Regions from separate parts of the Homo sapiens genome. Here region 1 is linked to region 2. Evidence: fine-mapped expression QTL. A gene starts in region 2. The other region holds a variant in brackets. All regions are shown on one strand. Distances are between the middles of the regions.

What was found. PIP is the estimated chance that this variant, and not a neighbour inherited with it, causes the effect.
Region 1: its variant is fine-mapped to the expression of NRG2 in lung (TOPMed, PIP above 0.99).

Annotation. Positions count from the first base shown.
Region 1 is chr5:139,877,947-139,883,313 of GRCh38, forward strand. NRG2 (neuregulin 2) reads right to left here. Exons shown (of 10, transcript NM_004883.3): 3 at 2,910-3,028. Among named protein-coding and RNA genes, the nearest start is that of PSD2, 85 kb to the left of the region's middle. RefSeq lists an enhancer at 1,970-2,733. The variant G/C (reference allele first, on the strand shown) is at 3,305.
Region 2 is chr5:140,040,073-140,045,439 of GRCh38, forward strand. NRG2 (neuregulin 2) reads right to left here and starts at 3,227. Exons shown (of 10, transcript NM_004883.3): 1 at 2,298-3,227. The coding sequence starts at 2,997. RefSeq lists enhancers at 1,130-1,319, 2,692-3,361 and silencers at 2,660-2,869, 3,030-3,369.

The DNA of each region.
Region 1 (5,367 bases), 160 kb before region 2:
TCCAGATATGCCCTCAGTGCCCTGCCCAAAGGTGCCACGGTCTGGTTCCTAAACTGATCACAGCATGGCCTACGGAGGGCTGACAGTAATCCGTGTGTGGGAGGGGACTGCAGCTTATCTGAGGGGTCTCACCACCTCTGGCCACAGGCCCCAAGCCCTGTGCAAGAGAGAGGGCACTCCTGTGGTTTTCTGCACAGCAGCCGCTCCCACTTTCTCTGCTAACAGCACCCCTTCGGGGAAGTGCTTTTCCATGGAGTTCTGACCAGGCCTTCACTCACAGTGCCCTGCCTCTCAGTAGCCCCTGTGCACACACAGACAGGCCAGGCAAAGATGGCCCCACCCTCCAAGCACAGTGACTGGTCAAGTGGGTCACATGACCTGGCAGGGTCATTCAGAATCCATCCTTGTGACTGTACTTATGGACACAGAGACAAAGCCATCTCTTTTCTCCGGGTGGTGGGCTGGGATGGGGTAGATCTGGACCTGTCTGAGACCATGGCCTCCTCTTCCCACCCCACTCCCCAAACATGAGAGAGGCCCATTTTACAGTAGGAAAGAATGAGGCCAACACATAGTGAGAGAAACTGTCTTGAGCCATCCTATGAGTTCTTGGACTCTTCCTCTGAGTTCTTAGATTCTGTCATGCCTGGGGCCAGTTCCACCTCTGAACTTACCAGTTTTATAAGCCAATAAATAAATCCCTTAAGATAGGCTTAAGTTAATTCTAGTCAAGAAAGTCTTGACTAATAAAATAGGAAGGCCCCAAATCCAAAGTGGATCTGAGAATGTCTGACCACTACAGCAGAGGTGGCAGGTGCTAGACCCCAGACACAGCCCACCTTCCCAAACTTGGGATAGGATGAGAGAAGTAGGAGCTCAGACACCCTCCCTGCTGTCATGCCCAGGCTGGGCCATAGAGGAGGCAGTAAAGACCTTGGAGCAGGTTATAAGTTCTCTTATATAATATTTACCAGGCACCCACTGTGAGCCAGGTGCTGTGCTAGACCCTGAGGCTAGGGTGGTAGACAGACTAGACATAGCCCCACAGAGCTCAAAGACTAAGTGTTTGCCAACTACTTTTACATCGTACAGCTCTATCATTAACTAGGTGTTTGACTTCAGGTGAAATATTTAATCTCCCTGAGCTTCTTATTGTTTATAAAATATATCCTGGCTTTGAGTATGGGTTCATGGGATAATGTGGAGCTTGGCTCAATAAATACTGGCTATGATTGTAACTTCCAGGAGAAAGCATCCTCCCTGTTCTCCCCTCTCCTGAGGCTCACAGATTCACTGGGATGGCCACGCCCACAGAGAAAGTTCAGCAATAGCATGAGAGTTGAAGGCTAATCAAAGGCTAGAATTCAAGAGATGCCATCAGAGCATGGTTGGCCAAGGAGTGGCCCAGGAGTGGAGCCCTAGCTGGGAGAGACGCTGCAGTGGGTTGGGATGGTCAAGGAGGAAGAGATGAAGCCATGGCCTCCTCTTCCCACCCCACTCTCCGAACATGGGAGAGGCCCATTTTACAGTAGGAAAGAATGAGGCCAACACATAGTGAGAGAAACTGTCTTGACCCATCCTATGAGTCAGGATGGCACAGGAGCAAGAGTAAGAATGGAATGGACAAGGGACTGATGGAAGTTAGGCTGGAAAGATCATTTAGGCCAGGGTGTTGAGAACAAAGTCCCTGTTCTGTAGTTCTATGGGGTGGGGAACATGACAGGATAAAAGCACCTTAGGAGGCTGCTGCTCTGGTTCAGGTGACTAGGGATGAAACCCAAGCCAGGGTTACCCTTGAGGTATAGTTAGAGCAGAAGAGGCAGGTGTGAGAAAGATCCAGAAAGAAGACTGGCAAGGACATGGAGACTCAGACTTATTAGACACAGTGGCAAGGGAGACCAAGGAGCACAAGGGGCTGGGAGGACGGGGTGTCCCTCACCAGGACAGGAAGACAGGGTCTGAACTAGGTTTTTGTCTGAGGGTCATAGGGCAGAGAGTGTTCCAAGTAGTCTTTTAGACCATGCTAGGTTTAGGGCATATTGGGAGGCTGTCTGGTGGAAATAGAGGCAGGTAATGACAGATACAGGATTATATTCTGTGATGAGCAGGACTGGAAGTGAACCCCAATAAATAGGTAGCCACATGCACACTCAGTCTGTGTGTGTTGGGGGGAGGAGAGTGATCTGTGGGATTTAAGGTACTCAAGCTAGAGTGGAGAGGGCACTGCCTGAGGACAGGTAGTTTTGGCGGAGAGGCAATCTCCCAGTCAAGGGAAAGAACCAGGGCCTGAGAGGGCAGTGCAGCAGGAAGGCAGCCTCTACCCTGAGGCTGGGTCTGCCACTGTAGAGACGAGAAGGTAAGAGGTGCCGTGAGGTCCTGACCTTGCAAGACTTCAAGGAGTGAGGATGGCCTGTCGGGGAGGAGTTTGCCCTCCCTGAACAGAGGCTGCCACCAGGGGCCCCAGGCATCCAAGCTGCCCACCCATGGCCCAGTGGAGATGGCTGCCTGTGCTCAGGTGCCCAGCAAAGCAACAGGCAATAGGCAGTCAGCTTGTACATGCCCCAGGCCTGCCTCTCCCTGCAGCCCCACTCCTGGCAGCCCAGCCTCCTATAATTGCCTTCTAAAAATATCCTTTCCCCACCCCCACCTCTTGATTTCAAAATATTTAGTTTTCAGGGTATTTAAAATGAGAGCTGGCGGCTCTTCCAGGCCCAGATAACAAAGCTAAACATTTATGCTTCGACTGCATTTCTCTGAATCGGCTGAGATCTAGGGCTTGATATGGCAGCAGCAGGAGGGAGGGGAGTTGAGTGCGAGATGGATCACATGCAGGCCCCAAGGGCTGGGGGGCCACTGGCCCGCCCTGCCAAACCCCTCTAGGACCCTTCCCTCTGTCTGGGCCCACCTACCGCTGTTGACGTAAAGCCGGCCCCGGACGGTGTCCTTCCCCAGGATGTTCTCGGCCTCGCAGACATACTCCCCAGCGTCCTCCACCTTCACCTTGTTGAACTGTAGTCGTGAGTTCTTTCTGGTTAGGGAGGGGATAAAAGGGGGAGAGGCGTGAGCCAGGGCCGGCTGTGGCTCCCCAGCAGTCACCCAGCGGTTGCCTCTCTCCACAGAGCCACAGTGGCCCTGCAGCTTAGATGGGAAGGAGATTCCCTCCCCCCAGCAATTTCTGGAGTCCAGGTGGGGCACGGAGTCCCTGCAGCTGCAGGGAGCCTTGGGCCCTTAGGACAACACAGGGCAGGACTAGTGGCTGCTCACATGTCCTAAATCTATGATCCCTCACATCCGCTCTTCTAGG[G/C]CTGGACCATTGTAACATTCTTCTGGGGGAGTAAAGCCAGGCCCTGTAGGAAGTCACATGGCCACCTCCCTCATTCCCAGCTGCCTCTGCCTCTCCTGGGAAGTGGCAACCTGTCATTCTGGGTATGCAAGACCTGTTCCCAGATACCCGGGAGGGCAGCTGTCCTGACGGATTCCCATGGTGATGGTGCCCAGACTCCTAGTCCAAACCTGGGGCTCTCCCTTGTTCTCAAAATCAGCGCTGCCACTAAGGGGCACTCTGTGGCTTCTCCAAGGGGTTTTTGTTTCATTCATTCATTCAACAAATGTTTACTGAGCACTTCCTGTGTGCCAGGAGCTTGTACACCTTGGGGAACAAAAAGATCCTGGACTTGATCCTCAGGGCCAAACTGGGTGTTCTCTGCTTACAGAAGGGAAAACTGAGTCCTAGAGGGACTTCCTGACTTGCCCAAGGGCACTCGGCAAGGCAAAGGCAGAGGTATGCCAGGAGCTGCAGTTCATGAGGACGTGGGCTATCTCTGAGAAAAGCTGGGGCTAGCCCTGAAGCTTTGCACCTAGTCCCTGCATGCTGAGAACTGTGTAGGGCACCTGGCCTTGGTCCCCCTCTTCTTTCTGAAGCCCCAGCCAAACCTCTCCTTCCTTCTCAGAGTTTCCCTGCACCTACCCCAGGGTGCTTAGGCTCTGCAAGGGCCTGTTCACAGCCCTCACCCCTTCCTCTGCCTCCAAGGGCCAGCATGAGCTCTGGATAAAGCCTGGGATCCCAGGCTGGCCCCCAGGAGGAAGCAAGAAGTAACACGGTAATTTCTGCACATGGTATGATCACCTCCTCTTTTTAGTGCTGAATTAAAAAGCCAGATTTCCAGCCTATGTGTAGTGGGCTGGAGAGATGGGGGAATACGAGGGAGGGCAGTAGAGCCATCATTGCCCTGAGCCTAGGGGATGTAAAACTGAGCTATGGAGCTGATGGGGTAAGGAGGCTGAGGAGAGGCAAGCAGATAGGCTGGGCCAGGGTCAAGGAGACGCAAACTGGCCCACAATCCCTACCTGGGCTGTCTCCACCTCTGATGGGGAGCCTCTTCCCAGGCATCCTGGCATCCTTACCCCAAGGTCCTCCCAACAAGGGTGCTACAAGATGGTCTTGTCTATAGACCCTATTGCTATGGTAATGTCCTTGCTGATGCTGTGGTGACAGCTGCTTAACTATACCATATTCTTCCTGGCTCAAGCTGGTCTCTGTCTCCTTGGCCTGGTGCCGGCCCACAACCCTCTTCTGTCAATTATAATTTGTTCCCTTCATTAAAGAGAGCCCTGGAGGCCCCTCTGACTAAGACAGCATCTCTTTCCCTGCTCCAGCCAAATTAGATGCCACAAACTCCAGCTTGCCCAGGGTATGGCTTCTCTCACTTCCCTGTGCACACACCAGATTAGCAGGGAAGGGGGATCGCCTGAGGGTCCGGGGGTGGGGGTGTTGATGCACAGGGGACTCAGAGCCAGATTCTCCTTGTCACCCCCCTGGAATTCAGAGGCGCTTCCCTTATACAGCATCATATGTAGCAGGACGTGGCAGAATGTTAAGGAAGGATTCCCCACATGCAGGCATGTGAGACCTGGAGAAGGCAGGCACAGGTCTCTAGGAGTGCCCCTTCCTTCTGAGGAACAAGAAAGAGGCAGGGGACAGAGATAATGACCCTGAGGCTTGCTGCAGATGTCCTAGGTTAGCAGCTGTCTGATGATTTCATAGAAGCCGGCCCCAGAGATGCACACGGGGCTCTGGGTCCTGGCTAAGGGGCAGGGCTCTGAGGGTTTCTCAGCCCCTGCAGGAACTGGAGTCACCACCTTCTCCCTCCTCACTCCCAGCTCCAGGTGGAAGCCTGAGGATCCAGGACTCTCCTGTCTCCCTGGCAGGCCGCGTGCTGTGCTCTGCTCCTGGTGTCCCATCACATGCTGACCCAAGTTTGCCCTGAGATGGTGACCACGCCCTCCCCCCTCCCCCCTACCTCCCCAGCTGGTTCTCTGCTGGCAGGGACAGGATCTGGGCAGCTGTGTCCTCCACATTTTCCTCAG
Region 2 (5,367 bases):
AATGCAGTTTATGCTCTTCTGTTATATTATCACCAATTCCACAAGTCTCACAAATATGTCCTTTAATTTCTAATCCCCTTATATAAGGCTCCCCAAAATGGTACCTATTTATATACTTCCCTTTGAATATCAATTCAAAGCAATTTTTTTTTGCATTCTAAAATGTTTACTGCCATACACATTCCTGATCCTTGATAATTTGTGATATGTGAGGGCCCTTCCTTTACCAGTGATTGCAGTTCTAAATGTATCTTTTTAAGAACTATACTACACATGCTATTTTGATAATATGAGATGATCATAACCTAGAAACAGACCATATTTCTGCCCCTCAAATCTTTCATGATTTCTGCATTCAACTGTTAAGCTACTGAATACCCACTAGAACAAACAATGTGTAATTGATAAGGTGTATTGTGTTGGGGGAAGGAGAAAGTAGGAGGAGGGAGACAAGGGAGCAGAGAAGCCAGTTACTCTATGGGGTTATCTGACAAAGACCATCAAGTCCTCAGCGGCCCAGACTAGGGATTATGTGGAGATGTACACTGTGCAAATGCAGGAGCAACTCACCAACAACCAAACAGAAGCTGTCCTTGGACAAGATTCAATAAATATTTTTACTATCTATTTTCCACTGTACAATACTGTTTCACAGCTCCCCAAGGCATCTCAGAGTATTTTAATACTCCCCAAGTATCAAAATACTTAATAGAATAAAAAATTAGAAATTCTTAGCTGGTCTCTACTTGTCTTTATAAAACATTTCAGAACATAAAACCAATAATAAAAAGCAGTCAACAATATTCCTAAGGATAATGTCAGAGCGATAAACTGCTGTTATCCCCCAAAGTTTTCCCCTCCTTATTAAGACATTGCCAAGATTCTTCTCATTAAAGTGATCACAGTTTAACATAGTTAGTGTCTAGATATACTCCCATCACTAAACTCCTAAAATTTGCCTCCTGAAGGGGGTGGGGGAGGAAAGCTTCCAAAAATCATAGGTATCGATCTAGAAAGATGAAGGCAGCAAAACTTACTATAAGCTGTTACACATATTTTGCTACTCAAACAAAGCCTGTCTACACTACCCAGAATCAGTTGGTAAAACTGGTAAACATACCAACTTCTATGAGAGTACAGGACATCTATCATAATTCAGCGATTACACAGTCCAGCAAGTCATACCGCATGCCAACAAATTCAGCTTTAGTTGGGACAAAACGAAACCTCAATTTGAATAAGCACGAGACAGGCTTACACCAAATACTCCAGTGTGGGACAATTTGATTTGAAATATCTTACTAAGAAGTAAGTACTGGATTCAGGGACAAGAAGAAAAAGCTCTTAGACTGACATTTCTTTGACTTTTGACATGGGAGACTTCCATTCCCAGCTGCAGAGATCTACAGATTTCAGTGTTTTGTTTCTAATCACCTGCATTCCTGTGCAGCATCCAACATCATGAAGATGAGAGATGCAGTCAAATACATCCGGCGAGTAAGACGTTAGAGCTGAACTTAAAGCATTCAGCAGAAGTTACTCTCTTTCATCATCATCACAATCAACAGACCTTGTAATTCCCCCAGAAACAGCTAAAAAAAAAAAAAAAAAAAGGTGTCTGCTTGCTAGTCTTAAGAGAAGGATGTGCTACCTGCTTAGCAAAGACAGGCAATCACGATGAAGAAAAAAACTGGAGCCACATGGAGGACGGAAAACAGTAGCAGAAAAAGTCCAACTCTGCCTGCGCCAGCGGTGTGGATGAGCAGAGCAACGAGCCCAGGAGAGGAAGGAGGGGGCGGGGGCGACCATTCCCTAGGAGAACTTGTAAGCGGAGGCCTTCACAGCCTGGGAGTCTGCCCAGCTGCTCCCGCAGACCCTGCCAGCCTGGGCACGGCAGGCCCGCGGCAGCAGGGCAGGCAAGGCCTCCGAGGGTCACTCCTGACTCACTGAGCCTCAGGCCAGCACCGCCAGGACCTCTCCGTTTTTCCTTCCGCTACTGGGCTATGATGGCAGCTTTCCAGCCCCACATGCCATACATCAGCCGCAGATCCCCGCTGGCACAGGCCAGCGCCTCCCTCCGCCCCCCACCCCTGGCACACTTTGAGCCTGATCCTTCTTCTCTCCAACCCCAACCCCCTCACCCACCCGTGCCAGGCGCCCTGCCCAGGGGCGGCCCCACCCCCCCAGCGCCCGGACGCTGCCAGGCCCGGGCACCTGCAGCACCTCCCCGCCCCACCCCCATTCTCCACCACCTCGCCCCTCCCCCCTTTCTCCAGCAAAGGGAGGGGGCGACTCACCGCAGTCAGTGCACAGGATCTTGCCCACCTCTTTCTTGAGATTTTTGCCGTTGGTATCGAGGGGGGCAAAGGCCGTCTTAAAGACTAAGGGCTGTTCCGTGGGCTCCAGGAAAAAGATGTAGCGCTGGTTCCTTTCGAGCGGCACACAGGAGCCCACGCTGATCACCTGCTCGCGCTGCAGCCCCCCGCTCCGGAGCGGCCACTTGTCCAGCACCTTTACCAACGCCACCCGACCCGAGGCGGGCGGCTCTCGGGTGCTGTTGGAGCTGGAGCCGCCGGCTGGGACCAGCCCCTGTACCTTGCCCTCCACCACCACGGGTGCCTTGTACGCCTGGTCCTGCACTGACTTGAGGCTGGGCGAGTAGCAGGCGAGCGACACACCGAAGAGCAGCATGGAGAAGCCGGGGGCCGGGTCGCGCCTCATGCCGCCGGCGGCTGCGGCTCGCGAACGGGCGGCGGCTCTCCGGGCTGCGGGGCTGCGGGGCTGCGGCTGTTGCTGCGGCCGCGGCTCTGGGGGCGCAGCGGGACGAGAGATGCTGCTGTTGTTGCTGCTGCTCCTGCTGCTGCTGCCGCTCTCGCTGCTGCTGCTGCTGCTGCTGCTGCTCCTCTCGCTGCTGCTGCTGCTGCTGTCGCTGTAGCTGCTGCACCGACCCTTCTCCAGTGGCGGCGGCGGCAGCGCTGAGCAGCAAACCTGCCGCATCTGGCCAGGCCATTTGGGGGGCTCCGCCGCTCAGCCGCCGCCGCCTTGGGAGGGGAAACAGAGCCCGCTGGAAAACCGGAAACAGCGTAACGTTAGCGCCTCTTAGCCCTCCACCGGCAGCCCGGGGAGGTGGCCCAGCTAGGGCAGGGGGCAGGCGGCAAGCGGGCCGCGATGCGCAGCGCGGCGCAGCGCAGCGCTCCCACCCTGTGCGCCAGGACCTGGAGGAGGATGCGGAGGATGGGACGCCCGCCCACTTGCTCTCTCGCGCCCCCTCTGCCCCCGGACCGAGTAGGGAGCGCGGCTTCTGCAGGGGAAGCTTGGGACTGCACTGCTTTAGTGCCCGCCTTCAGCCCGCAGGGGCGCGGGAGGAATCGTGCCACCCTTTGCTCCCGGGATTTATCGGCATGACAGTGGGGGTGGTGCGTGAGGAGAAGGCGAAGAAGAGATAACGGGCTCCTGGCACCATCCTATGAACGTGGTAATGGGACGCAGGGCGTGCCCCCTGCCTTTGGCCAGCAGCTGTAGGAGCCAGAGAGGTTGCCATGGCCAGGGTGGCCGGCCAGCCTCTCGCCTCTTGGGCTGTCCTCTTTCCTAGGAGGACCCTGGAGCCCAGCCCCTAAATGATACCACGTGCTCGGTCCTGCCACCGCCTGGTGAACGCTGGATATTCGACTTGAGGTGGGGGAGAATCCCAGCCCCGTCATTTTGGAAAGAGTTGGGCCACAAGGTGTCTTGTCTTAGCATTGAGGACACCCAAGCAGAGGTGGTAGCTGAGAAAGGGCCCAGTCCCCAACACTCTGGGCTTTCTTCAGCGGCCACGTGGGGATCTGGCTGAGCACTGTACAACCTCATCTTTTAAAAATCTGATCTCTAAGAAAGGTGGGGGGCTTCTTGGGAGCCAACAGAGAGCCAGAGCCTGTCAGGGCCAGAGGCTGCTCCATAAAAAAGGTTTTTTTTGTTTTGTTTTGTTTTGTTTCCAAGGCTGATGCTTGCAAGAGGCAGAAGAGTTTGCTGCACTGGAGCCAGCATCTGATTTAAAACACACACACACACACACACACACACACACAGGTCCATAATCCATTAGCCTATCAATGAGGGTCCAGGGAGTTTTCAACACCCAGCTTTTAACCTTGAAGGATGTGGAGCTCAGGAATGCCAGTGAGCTCTTGGGGAATTTTATACCGCACTGGGCTCCACAGGAAACTGGTCCAAGGATGAGTGACTTAGGCTAGGACTGCTATTCTGGAAAGGAAGTAGAGAGAGCTACACCTTTCCTCCTAGCTAAGAGACATCTTAAACTCAATACATCCAAAGCCAACATCATTATTTCTTCCACTTCACTCCAAATCCCCTATAATTATTAATGCCACTGTTTTATTCTTTTAGACTACATCAATCCATTACAATAAGTCCCTTCATCTCATCTTTTATTCTTCCTCATCCAATTAATCACCAAGGCCTTTGGGTCTCTCTTTTAAAATAATCTCCAATTTATCTACTTCCACTCCAACTCTGCTGCAAATACCTTAAGTCCAAGCCCTCATCATCTCTCACCTGGACAACTTCTAAGCCTTCTAACTGGTCTCCACTCCTTTCACCTCATCACCTATCTCCAGTCCTACCAATGCCAGAGTGATCCTTCTAAAAATAAAATGTAAGTACAATTTGGCCATGCTACTGCTCTCAGAAGTTAAGTTCAAACTCCTCAGCAAGGCTCTTCATGGGCTCCCTTTGCCTAGCCAGCTTCATATCCTGAGAGCCAACCCCCCACTCTAGCAATCCTCAGCACTTCATGCTCTTTCTTGGTGTGCTTCTGCACATGATGTCTCTTGTGTCCAGAAAGCCTCACCTCCACCTTGACCACATGGAAAACTTATTTTCCCAAGGCCCAGCTCAGCATTATACCGCATCCCCCTTCCTACATATCCACCTCTACTCCCACCAACACATACATGATGGAATTAATCCCTTCCTCCTCTGTATTGCCATGAGCTTCACACATAGTATTACTGTTGGGATACTGGCCCATACCGTATTTCAAGCAGCCATTTAATGGGTCTGCATCTCCCATCAGGCCAGGCACGTTAATGTCAGGGACTATATATATCCTATTCATCTTTGGATTCCTATTACCTCCAACACAATGCCTGGCATAAAATAAGGATTAGCAAATCTCCAGTGAAAGAAGGAGAGAAGGAAGAAAATAACTGAAAATCGGCACGCTTAAAGGCATCAAGCCAATCTTCTTGGCTCCTTCAGTGTCCCCCATTTCATTTTCATAGATCACAGACCTCATAAATCACAAAACATCACCATAAGGAAGATAGCGACATCCACTCTTTCATTTTACAATGAAAGAAAAAGTCC